Linked DNA regions of Homo sapiens: all the other regions are linked to region 3. The links come from fine-mapping of genetic effects on gene expression. A gene starts in region 3. Each other region holds a variant in brackets. All regions are shown on one strand. Distances are between the middles of the regions.

The links. PIP is the estimated chance that this variant, and not a neighbour inherited with it, causes the effect.
Region 1: its variant is the best candidate, but not a certain one, in a credible set for the expression of NRDE2 in whole blood (TOPMed, PIP 0.60).
Region 2: its variant is the best candidate, but not a certain one, in a credible set for the expression of NRDE2 in whole blood (TOPMed, PIP 0.59).

Annotation. Positions count from the first base shown.
Region 1 is chr14:90,270,254-90,274,482 of GRCh38, forward strand. PSMC1 (proteasome 26S subunit, ATPase 1) reads left to right here. Exons shown (of 11, transcript NM_002802.3): 10 at 1-99; 11 at 2,020-4,229. The coding sequence ends at 2,154. It overlaps NRDE2 (NRDE-2, necessary for RNA interference, domain containing), which reads right to left. Exons shown (of 14, transcript NM_017970.4): 14 at 1-4,229. Among named protein-coding and RNA genes, the nearest start is that of PSMC1, 16 kb to the left of the region's middle. The variant A/G (reference allele first, on the strand shown) is at 1,970.
Region 2 is chr14:90,277,662-90,281,890 of GRCh38, forward strand. NRDE2 (NRDE-2, necessary for RNA interference, domain containing) reads right to left here. Exons shown (of 14, transcript NM_017970.4): 13 at 1,401-1,472; 14 at 1-800. The coding sequence ends at 675. Among named protein-coding and RNA genes, the nearest start is that of PSMC1, 23 kb to the left of the region's middle. The variant A/G (reference allele first, on the strand shown) is at 2,041.
Region 3 is chr14:90,329,380-90,333,599 of GRCh38, forward strand. It overlaps NRDE2 (NRDE-2, necessary for RNA interference, domain containing), which reads right to left and starts at 2,562. Exons shown (of 14, transcript NM_017970.4): 1 at 2,462-2,562. The coding sequence starts at 2,525. RefSeq lists an enhancer at 2,316-2,495 and a silencer at 2,646-2,795.

The DNA of each region.
Region 1 (4,229 bases), 59 kb before region 3:
ATCTTTCAGATTCACACAAGCAGGATGACGCTGGCTGATGATGTAACCCTGGACGACCTGATCATGGCTAAAGATGACCTCTCTGGTGCTGACATCAAGGTGAGAGCCTAGCCGTGTCAGCTTATTTCTGGGAATGTGGCCGTCAATCAGGAAAGAGTCTATATGTGCTCTTGGGATGGTGGTTGGCCTGGACAGGTGGGTGTCTGTATTTTAATCATCATATTGGTTTACGATTACATCCAAATGGTATATGTGCTTGATATTGAAGTCATTCTTAATGCATCATTTTATGCAGTGAATGACGCTAAATCACCTGGAGCCACAAGGCTGAGTCGCTGGTACTAAGCCTTAGGCCCAGGTGACTTTCTCAAGGTGTGTCAAATGTAGCTGCTCAGTCCCAGGTCAGGGGAAGGGTATGTCCTGGGAGAACTCTCCCCAGAGCCGCAGAGTGGGGACCAAGCACCCGCTGCATTCATCTCCCAATCTGTGTTCTGGAAGGTTGTACCAGATTATACTTCTTGGTTTTATGACAAATGTACATGAGTTAGGACATTTCCTCCCAGCTGACCAGAATTTACAGCAAGGTCTGGCAGCGTTGAATATGGGTTCTACCTGCTTTTCCTGGAAAGAGCTGGGTTTTCGTTGGGCATAAATGCCATGGTTAGGTAGGGACAGCACAAGCAGTGCCTTTCCAGGCCAGCACCTGCCCTGAGCCCACGGATCATTGGCAGTTAGTCCTAGAGAACTAGATGTCTCTGTTGGCAAGTAAAATCTATCTTCTTTTTTAAAAATTGAAAGATCTTAAAATTTTAAGATAAGAACTTACTTTGACAATTTTCAAGCCTTCAAAAAAGTTGCAACAATAGCACAGTGATTTGCCAAGAGTTAACATTTTACCTGTTTGCTTTTTCTCTTTCTATACACAAAACTTTCTTTTCACCCGAACCATTTGAAGTAAATAACCTGATGGCCATCACCAAACAAACTTCTGTGCCAGGATTGTGTTTTTTGCCACATCTTGTTTTTGCCACAGTAATTACTGGCCAAAAGAAAAAGAAAACAATAACAGTAACCCACATAATATGTTTGTTTGCTGTCCTTCTCTATCTATTTCCTTCATTTCTCTTTCCTTTCTAAACAGATCAGGCCTAAAACAATAACAGTAACCCATGTAACATGGGTTATTGTTTTCTTTTACTTTGGGCCAGTAATTACTGAGAAATTAAATATATTGGAATAAATGCTATACTCTGTAGTATTATTCCATAGTATAGATACTGCCACTTACAGTATCTAACCAGAATACATGTTCTTTTATGACTATAAGTAAATGAAATAGACATATACTGTCAATTGCCTCTAAGTTTCAGGGCATAATTTTGTTTATTTCCTAGGAATATTATTCTCTTTAACAAAAGTGGTGTTGTACAAGCCACATAGCTTGTTAGAACCTGAGCCAAAACTAGAACCCACAGCCCTGACCCTTGGGTCAGTCTTAGTTACAGTAACTCCCAGTTTAAGCCACTTCACATCCTTTCAGAAAATAGGATGCTTAAAACATTTTTTTTAAAAATCAAATCTTTCCCAAATAAGCAATTTGTGTTTAGTCTAGGTGTCTCATGCTTTATTTCAGAACAGATTTTTTTTTTTTTTTTTTTGAGGTAGAGTTTCGCTCGTTGCTCAGGCTAGAGTGCAGTGGCGCGATCTCGGCTCACTGTAACCTCTGCCTCCCGGGTTCAAGCAATTCTCCTGCCTCAGCCTCCCGAGTAGCTAGGATTACAGGTGCCTGCCACCGTCCCTGGCTAACTTTTTGTATTTTTAGTAGAGATGGGGTTTCACCGTGTTGGCCAGGCTGGTCTTGAACTCCTGACCTTAGGCGATCCACCTGCCTCGGCCTCCCAGAGTGCTGGGATTACAGGTGTGAGCCACCGCGCCTGGCCTCAGAATAGGTTTTTTGGAATTCCTTGTT[A/G]GAATAAAAATGAGTATGTCACTTTCTGAACACACTCTTCTTTCTTACAGGCAATCTGTACAGAAGCTGGTCTGATGGCCTTAAGAGAACGTAGAATGAAAGTAACAAATGAAGACTTCAAAAAATCTAAAGAAAATGTTCTTTATAAGAAACAGGAAGGCACCCCTGAGGGGCTGTATCTCTAATGAACCATGGCTGTCATCAGGAAAATGGTTGGGAGATTTCTCAATCCCTGAAAGGGATGAGGTTGGGGGAGTTGCCCAGAGGAATCCCTGTTCCCACTGATTTTTATTAGCAAAACATCCTGTGTCTTTTGGAGTACGATGTGTAAGTGCCCATTGGGTGGCCTGTTGGTCACTGTGCAGCAGTCTGCTTCCCAATAAAGCGTGCTCTTTCACAAACACTTCCTGTTTCTGCAGTCTCCACACACACCTACCGCTCAACAGCAGCCTGTGGGTGGACCCAGCTACAGGGAAGCCTTTGGACAGGAACTCAGGCTGCGGTCCCAAGGAGTGTGGACCTCACTATGCGTTCGCCACATCACACCCCCAGAGCTGGCGTTCAACGGTAATTACAGTGGGAAATGGTCACTACCACAGAGCCAGGGATATTCGTTGTTTAAATAATAAAGGCTGCGTTAATGTGGCTATTGCTTCCAAAGGAAGTACAGCTTTCCTTTTTGGAAGTTTTGTGGACCATGCATGTTCTTAGCACTCTGAGGGCAGAAAATAACTACTGGTGTTCCCAAGAGACTGAGGATTCCTAGAGATATCTTGAAAGCCCTTCTGAGCCCTTGGGCTCAGAAATCTCATCCCTTTCAAGGTGTTCAGAAACATGTCAGAACTTCCCCTTCCCTTTCTCCGTCTATTTCCGTCATTTCTCTTTCTGAACAAATCAGGCCTAAAGCTATTAAGTGGGACAGATCAAGGTAAGCGTTCCCTTGACAGGTGGCCTGGTGTGGGTTGTAGGGCCCACACTGAATGAGGAGTGTGTATTAGTTTTCTGTTAATACTATAACAAGTTACCACAGGCTTTGTTTAAAAACAGCACAATTTGGCCAGGCACGGTGGCTCACGCCTGTAATCCCAGCACTTTGGGAAGCTGAGGCAGGCGGATCACAAGGTCAGAAGTTTGAGGCCAGCCTGGCCAACATGGTGAAACCCCATCTTTACTAAAAATACAAAAATTAGCTGTGCGTGGTGGCAGGTGCCTGTAGTCCCAGCTACTCAGGAGGCTGAGGCAGGACAATCGCTTGAACCCAGGAGGCGGAGGTTGCAGTGAGCCAAGATCCCGTCACTGCACTCCAGCCTGGGCGACAGAGCAAGACTCCGTCTCAAAAATAAATAAATAAATAAATAAAAACCACAATTTTATCTCAGTTCTGTAGGTCAGAAGTCCAACACGAGTGTCTCCAGGCTAAAGTCTTGCTGTTGGCAGGACCGTTCCCTCTGGCGTCTCTAAGGGAGAATCCGTTTCCTTGCTGAGGATTATTGTTGGCAGAATTTAATTTCTTGGAGTTGTGGGCCAGCTGAGGTCAGCATTTCCTTGCTGGCTGCCAGCTGAGGCCTTTGCCAGTCTGTGAAGGCCACCCTCCCTCCTGACTCGTGGCACTTCATTTTCCACCAGCAGCAGCAGGCCCAGTCCCTCTCTCCCACCGACCCTTCTTTCTGCCTGCCTTTTCTATTCTTATGGATCCTTGTGATTGCATTGGACCCATGCAGATGATCCAGGATAATTTCCCTGTTTTAAAGTTTACAATCTTCTTAATTTTTATCTGCAAAGTTCCTTTTGCCATGTAACATTCACACGTTCCAGGGCTTAGGGTGTGGCCATCTTTAGGGGCGCCACTCTGCCTACCACAGAGGACATCCACACGTGGGGGTGGCCCAGTGCAGGGTAAGGACGGGGTGCTTGTGGGGAGGGCGGGTGTCAGCCCAAGTAGGGTGTGGAGCTGTCCATGTGGAGGAACACCACAGCACGGGGACTCAGCATGGGCAGGGTGAGGCTGGCATCCGTGTGGGGTGTATGTGCAGGGCTGGGGTGGTCCGATAGGGGGAGTCAGTGTGGGCAGCCTGATGTGCAGTATGAGAGCCCAAGTGGGTGAGGAAGGCATCTGCAGGGACGGGGTGGTGGCAGGGGAGGGAGGCTGCTTATGTATGGAGGCAGTCAGGCAGGTAAACAGGACAGTGGGAGCCAGGTTTCTCTGAGGAGTTAGACACAGAAAGAAGAAAACAAGAACGACCTCTGTCCACTGGGAGCA
Region 2 (4,229 bases), 52 kb before region 3:
AGAGGCTGCCAGTGCCCCGGGCAGCCTTCCACACTCAAGTGGCCTGGGACCTGCTGAAGAGCGGGTTCTGACTCCACAGGCCTGAGTTTTTCAGCAGCCCCAGGGCACGCTGCCCCTCCAGCTCCAGGCGGAGGCATCGCCGCCGAGGTAAACTCAGGGAACTTGCCACACACTGCGTGCAGGCCAGAACACCAAGCGTTAACTGCGGGTCTCAACACAAGAGCAAAATCTCCTGCTCACCAGCCTGGGGAAGACATCCTAGTGCTGAAAAACCAGACCTTTATCTCAGAGAGGGCCTGGCAGGACCACCACGACACCAGCGGAGGGAACACATTCACCGTGCGGGGGCCAGTGCTGGCTGCGCACAGGGAGAGAATGAGCAAGGACGCTGCCACGCCTCAATCATCATCGGTTTAATGACCACGTGGCATGACTCTCTGGCTATGTACATATATACACATATTCACATATATAATATGTAAATAACTTTTGTGTCATTTACACACCCAAAAAGTGTGCAAGATGTGAGAGGCTGGCAGCCCACATTATTACTATCGAGAAAGAACATTTCAAAAGCCGAGTTCTCCTAACACACACGTTCTCTGCTCGCGCCTCCTAGCTCCGCAGGGTGGGCAACTTGGCCTCGCAGGCACAGCCCGTTTTCCCGCTGCTCTCTAATCCTCCAGCAGCAGCTCCAGCTCCTCCAGCGGCAGGCGCACCCGGAGCTCCTTCTCAGTCATCAGGTCCAGGATCTCCTGCATCTCATCGGGGAAATACTCCACGGCGTCCAGGTACAACACCTAGGGGGCAGGCAGGAAGGCCGCCCCACTCAGCCGCCACTTCCTGTCAGCCTGGAGGAGCTCAGGAAGCAAGGGCCAGGTTCCTGGTGACCCTGCCCTCCTGTCGCCCTCCACGGCCCCTGCTCCCCTTGGCTGAGACTTTCTTAACTCGGGCAGCACTGGGCATGTTCAGGAAGGACACTGAACTCGCAAAAGTGAGCAAACGCCAAGCGAGGCCTTCTCTTTTAAAAGGGGTCCAGGAATTGCTGGCCGTCGCCCTCAGTTTCACTTCTGAGTGTCACCTGACCTGGGCTCTCACAGCCAGGCTGGGACATGATCCCAACTCTTTCAGCATCTGGGCTGGACTCTGACCAAATGCTGGGAAACCAGCTACCCACGGCAACACTTCCATGAAGCACCAGCCCCAGGTAGGGCCAGGCTCTGACTCCACAGGGGACAGTTTCACCAGGAAAAGGCTCTGGATGTACCTTGGGACAGGGTATGGCGTCCATGAGCCGAGCATCCCCGGTGCCGCGGGGCAGGCCGGGAAGACACTAGCTGGACGGAGACCTGGCGGGAAGTTTTCGGGAAGCTGAAGACACCATGGCCTTTAACACTTACCTTTGCCCAAGGGCAATTCTGAAGTGCTTTGTAGAATACACCTTTGCTTCTTTCTTTATTTCCTAAGGAAACCTGAGGTGAGGGGGAGAAAATACAAACATGATTAGTTGACACAGAGAGGCTAAGGCTACACAAACGCCCCTGGATGACGGGCACAAGCCCTCAGCTGCAGTGAGCCCACCTGTGCAGAGGGCCTGGCACCGTCACGGTGGCTGTGGGACAGGGGCAGGTGCCAGGGAGCACTCTCAGAAGCCACTGCTGTGTTGGGGTTGTTTCCTCCCATTCAAATGGCCCCAGAGTGTCAATCCTGAACACTACTGACTTTTTAAAGTCTCAGATCTCCTCCTTTGCTGTAGGCTGTCACCTCTGGGTGTTAGTAACAGTGCTTGAAACCAAGGAGTGTCAGTGAGGTGAGGCTGAAGACATTATACAAATAGAGAAAATCTTCTACAATACTTATCTTAGAAAACATAGAGAAGACACTTGCTTTAATACTTGCCATTTTCTGAAAACTATCTTTTAGAGAAAAGAGATGGCCAGGACTGTGATCACTGACCTTACAAAAGGTGCAAGTTCCATCGGCAATCTCAGTATCTGTGTGGATATTCAGCACGTGTTCTCTCTAGATATAAAACCCTCC[A/G]TCTCGACTCAGCCACACAGCCTCCTTCCCAGCCCAGTGTGGAAGGAGACCCAGCCTGGGACCTCCGCTGACAACAGCCCCTCTCAAGCCCTCCAAGGAATCACAGCCCACACGGGCAGCTCCACAGGTAGCTGTGCAGCCAGGAGTGGGCACAGGCAGGGCTTGTGGAGCTGAAGTCTCTGTTTCCACCCACCCCGTCCTGCAGGCTCCCCTCCCTCAGAAGGTTCTAGGGGACGCCAGCCCTGCCCAACCAAGCGGCCGGGGCACAGCATCCAGCCCGGGACCAGTGAGGGCTGCTGACCGGCTTCCCAGAAACCTGAACAGTGGCATCCAGGGACTCCACTCTCCAATTTACATCTCAGGAACTCCATCTACCAAGGATGGCCTCACTCCCTTTTCTATTTGTTTTTTGTTTGGTTTTTTTGGTTTTTTTTTTCACTGTCTATGTTGCCCAGGCTGGCCTTGAACTTCTGGGCTCAAGCAGTCCTCCCACCTCAGTCTCCCAAGTAGCCGGGACTCCATGGCCAGTCCTTCTCAACCGTTAACTCCCACAGTCACAGGGACGGAACTGTGATAACCTTGCTTCAGGCAAGGCCCAGTCTTTCCCCAGCCTCTGTGAGTGCCACGCACAGGGCCAGCTGTGAGGCTCGGAGGACTCCTGCGTGTCCTCCCTGGTGGAAGCCTCCAGTTCTGAGGCTGAGCCTCTGAATTTATAACCAAAGAGCCACTGAGCGCTGTCCTTCCTTCCCATGCTAACATACTTCAGTGTCCTTTCCTAAGATACTGACAAAATGTAACAACCATGCACAGCTAATCTCGGAACCCAACAAATCCAGGTACACAGCTGGCCAGCCTCCATCAGCGCTGGAGATGCCCTCACTGCACGGAGGTATGGAAGGGCTGGATGCCAGGTGAAAGCTTGGTGGGGACCACGTGTGGCTTCCGTCCATGATTTCATCTTCTGAGACGTGGCCTGCGTGTACCTTTGACCTCTGACTGGCGCAGTCTCGAGGGAGGGAAGAGTTCATGGGCGCTATCTGGCTCTCCTGGTCCTCCTTTCTCATCTTCTGAACTGACAACTGAGACCCCTCATGAAATTCCTAAGTCAGGACTGAAACATAACAGGGGGCAACTCTTCTTTGCTGGAGTTCCCATGGTACTGTGTCTGCACCCTATGGGATTGTGTCCAGGTAAACGTCTCCTCAGGTGGACTGGGAGCATCTCAGGTAACCAACAGGGTCTTTGCTGGGAACCTAAGAAAACAGCTAATGGAGGAGCAGAACTGCCGTGATGGGTGCCCGAGTGAGTGTGTGATTCGGCCAAGGGCAGTCTCCCAGAGGGAAGCAGGAATGGAGACTTCACACAGAGGCCACTTCCCTCACACGAAGCCCCAGGAACCGAATCTCATACAAACCATCTGAAGAACTCAGCCAACAAGATGCTGGCCGGACACGGTGGCTCACGCCTGTAATCCCAGCACTTTGGGAGGCTAAAGAGGGCAGACTGCTTGAGCTCAGTAGTTCGAGACCAGCCTGGGCAACATGGCAAAACGCTGTCTCTACAAAAATATAAAAATTAGCCCAGCACAGTGGTGCGCACCTGTGGTCCCAGCTAAGGTGTGGGGAATGCTTGAGCTCAGGAGGTTGAGGCTGCAGTGAGCTGAGACTGCGCCACTGCATTCCAGCCTGCATGACAGAGCAAGACTCTGTCTCAAAAAAACAAAAAATGCTTATGACTCAGACCTGAGCTGGGCCATAATAATTCTCCCCTGTGCGACCACGGGGGAGGCGAGTAACAGTGGCAGGCAGCTGCCCATTGGCTGCATCACTAACGTCCCAAGTGTTTGAGTCCTCCGTGTAGAGAAGCTATTTGGTGCTTTGTAATCACTTGTTTTGGCATTTGTCTACCTTCTTAGCAGACGTGTGCCACCTCCCCATGGGGGAAGCAACATCTCTAAAAAACGAGGAAGCTGAAGGTCTTAAGGCTTTTGCAAATTTTGATTCTCTTTTTTTATCTCCTTATAAACAAATGTGAGCAACTGTTAGCTTATACAATTTTTTATGTAACAAAACATAACCAACCTTGTCCAAACAAAAAAAGATGCATTTCTATAATGCTCCCTCCATGTGCTCCTGAGAGAAGACTGACACTCTGCTGAGAGGTTTATTGGTTTATCTCTGATAGAACTC
Region 3 (4,220 bases):
TCCTACTCTCTTGAAGATCCATCCAAAACTTAGCTCCTGGCTAGGCACAGTGGCTCACGCCTGTAATTCCAGAACTTTGGGAGGCTGAGGCAGGAGGATCACTTGAGCCCAGCAGTCTGAGATCAGCCTGGGCAACATAGCAAGACCCTGTCCCTACTTAAGAAAAAAAAAAGTAGGCTGGGTACGTTGGCTCACACCTGTAATCCCAGCACTTTGGGAGGCCGAGGTGGGCGGATTATCTAAGCTCAGGAGTTCAAGACCAGCCTGGCCAACATGGTGAAACCCCATTTCTACTAAAAATACAAAAAATTAGCCAGGTGTGGTGGTGCATGCCTGTAATCCAAGCTACTCGGGAGACTGAGGCACAAGAATCACTTGAAGCCAGGAGGCGGAGGTTGCAGTGAGCTGAGATTGTGCCACTGCACTCCAGCCTGGGTGACAGAGTGAGACTGCCTCAAAAAAAAAAAAAAAAAAAGTAAAAGAAAAAAATATTAGTTCCTACATAAAGCCTTCTTTGAACCTTCTATTAGAAGTAATTATTCCTGGGCTGGGTGTGGTGGCTCACAACTGTAATCCCAGCACTTTGGGAGGCTATGGTGGGCGAATCACTTAAAGTTAGGAGTTCGAGACCAGCCTGGCCAAAACAGTGAAACCCCATCTCTACTAACAATACAAAAATTAGCCGGGCATGGTGGTGAGTGCCTGTAGTCCCAGCTACTCGGGAGGCTGAGGCAGGAGAATCACTTGAACCCAGGAGGCGAAGGCTGCAGTGAGCCAAGATCGTACAATTACACTCCAGCTTGGGCGACAGAGCAAGACTTGGTCTCAAAAAAAAAAATAAATAAATAAATAAATAAAAAGAAGTAATTAATCCTGCAGTTCACCTATGGTATCTGTAATATCCCACCTTGTACTATACACTTCTTTTAGGTGCACTCATGCATTCCTGCAACACGTAATTATTAAGTAACTACTATCGATCTGTACATCCAGAAAATATTTATTGAACACCTATTATACTTTGGACCTGTGCTAGGGGCTAACTATGCTACAATGAATAGACAAACACTGCCCAACCTGATAGAGATTACAGTCTAGTAAGGGAAGACAACAATTTTACACAAGAAATTACTCACAATTATGAGAAATAGGACAAGCGCAGTGGCTCATGCCTGTAATCCTAGAACTTTGGGAGGCTCAGATAGAGAATCGCTTGAGCTCAGGAGTTCGAGACCAGCCTGGTCAACACAGTGAGACCTCGTCTCTACTAAATATTAAAAAAAATTAGCCAGGCCTGGTGGTGCACACCAGTAGTTCCAGCTATTCATGAGGCTGAGGCAGGAAGTTAAGCCCAGGAGTCTGAGGCGGCAGTGAGTTATGACAGTGCCACTGTACTCCAGCCTGGGCAACAGAGTGAGACCCTGTCTCAAAAAAAAAAAAAAAAATTAGGAGAAACGTTACAGAAAGTGTAGGAACTATATTAGAGGATATAACAGACAGGTAAGACTCAATTGCGCCCTGTCACATATGGCACATAATTTAGAATTACTTTTTTTTCTTTTTTTTTTAGAGACAAGGTCCCCCCACCCCAGGGCAGGATGCAGCGGCACGATCATGGCTCACTGCGGCCTCAAACTTCTGGGCTCAAGCAATCCTCCTACCTCAGCCTCCTGAGGAGCTGATACTATAGGTGTGCACCACCACGCCTGGCTTTTTTTTTAAGAGACAGGAGTCTCGCTATGTTGATCATGATGGTCATGAACTCCCGGGCTCAAACTATCCTTCCACCTACAGGTGTGGGCCACTGCTCCTGGCCAGGATTAATTACTTCTTAAATGAACTATGTACCCCAATTTTGAACAATGCAGCTCTGCTGGAAATGTCTGGGACTTAAGTAAAATGTGTAAAGCCATAACCTGATACACACTAGGCCCTCAAGAATAAATGTTAGTTATTTTCACTGGGTGCTGTGCCCCTCCAGAGAGAAACTGATTAGGTTTTGGATACTAATCCCCTAGCTCTAGGCCGCTAAGTAATACCAATCTAATAAGCATTTCAGAAATAAGTATAACAGGAAAGGAAGTAATATGTAATAAAAACATTCTGCATTTGCATCAAGGGTTTCCTCGAGATGTCGAGTATCATTATTCCCAATTTAAAGATGAAGTAACTGAGGCTCGAAAAGAAGAACAGGACCTAACAACATCGTACAGAAGTCCCAGCTCCAGGGCATCTGCTGGTCTTTCTCCACCCCTCCATAACTCTACAACCTTGGTCCAGAACAGGCCTCTGGGCCCCAGACCTCGGAGGGATTGAGCCTTTCCCAGAAGGCTTTGCAGCGCCGCGGAGAACTCTGGGATACAAATGGATACACAAATCCAAAGCAAAAGTCTAGACCTGGGCCCGAGAAACAGCCTCTTAAGCCCCCCAGGTGCCTTCTTCGGCTCGTTTGTGTGCTTACCTTTCCTGGAGCTCCCGCCATCGGGAGCCTCACTAAGCCCCGCAAAGGCTGGGAACAGCGCCATGACCACAGGCCGTACCTCCGTTCTTCTCTATAGGGATGGCGCCGGCGAGCGAGCGCCGGTCTGAGGACCCCTGCCGTCGCGGTGCACTCTGGGAAATGTGGTTTTCGCGGCGCTCTCTGGGGCTTGACCCCGAAGCGGGAGGGGCGGGGCCCAGAGAGGAGGGTCGTCAAGGGACTGGGGCGCGGCGGGGCAGGGAGAGGCAGGGCAAAGCAGGGTGGGGCGGGGCCAAGGGGGGCGGAGCGAGGAGTGACGGGTTCCTAGTGGTTGGGACCCTGTGAGAACCGGAACTGCGAAAACCGGAGAAGGGAATTGTTGACCGCGAAAGGGACTAAGGAAATTGGGATTCCAGTTCGACCCCTAAATTCACACCATCCTTGCTAACTGGGTCAACTTAAACGCTCTAAGCATTACTTTCCTTATCTGCAAAATATTGAGAAGATTAAATGAACATATTTATAAAGGGCCTAGCATTGAGTCCGGCCCATGAAAAGCACTTAATATGTGTTAGCTATTATGTGAATTACGACTGCAAGTTCGGCTCAAAGTCATGTGAGATATCCGAACTTCAATCAGGTTACCATATTAAATACCCCAGAACAAGGAAAAATGGAAAGTCCCATCAAGTTCAAGGGTCTTTGATAGTTAGGAAATACCTGTCTGTGAAGCATTCTTGACCCCGGTTCCTCCCACCCAAAATCTAATCACACTTGCTACCAGAAATATAGAGAGTAAAGGAACAACTTAGAAGACTTTGTACTACCAAGAAACAATTAGCCAAATCTAGAATATGGGAAATTATAGAAAACAACCGTGCTTCCTTAACATATCAAGGGCTTTAAGAGGGCAGGAGATTGTAATAGATACGAAGATCTTACAGACACATCAAGCAAATACAACATATTTGTGGCCTCATTATAATTCTGATTGGACAAACTGTAAAAAGACCTTTTTAAGATAGATGGAGAAATAAGAAGGTAGGCAGAGTACAAGCAATTCACAAGTAATTCTTGTGAATTCTGTTAGATGTACTAAAGTACTTATGTCACTGAGGTGACCCTTATTTATTTATTTTGAGACAAGGTCTCCTTCTGCCACCCAGGCTGGAGTGTAGTGGTACGATCTCTGCTCACTGCAGCTTCGAACTCCTCGATTCAAGCAATCCCCTCACCTCAGCCTCCCAAGTGGCTGGAACCACAGGCATACACCACCATGTCTGGCTTAATTTTTTTTTTTTTAATAGAGACAGGGTTTCACCATGTTGCCCAGGCTGGTCTCGAACTCCTGGGCTCAAGCGATCTGCCCCCCTCTGCCTCCCAAAGTGCTGGGTGCCTGTGCCTGAGCACCCCCCAACCCAGCCTGAGATTACTTTTTAAAGTTCTTATATATTAGAGATATATACTGAAATATTTGCAAGTGAAAATAGATAGGTAAATGAAGATATATTTATTGGGATCCTAGGGAGTTAAAGATCTTTAGTTAGGAAATACATTATAAACCAGAGATGCAAATGTAATCATCTAATCAAGGAATGGATGGACTCTGATGAAGTCTGCAGACCTGCATAAGAATTAGGTTCTATGAGTCCAAAATAGACACCCTTAATGCTTTGAAGTCCCTGGCAGAGTACTTACAAAAAGGAGCTTAGTATGACAATAGGGGCAGTAATTCCTGTATGTCTTCAACTTTAAATCTCAG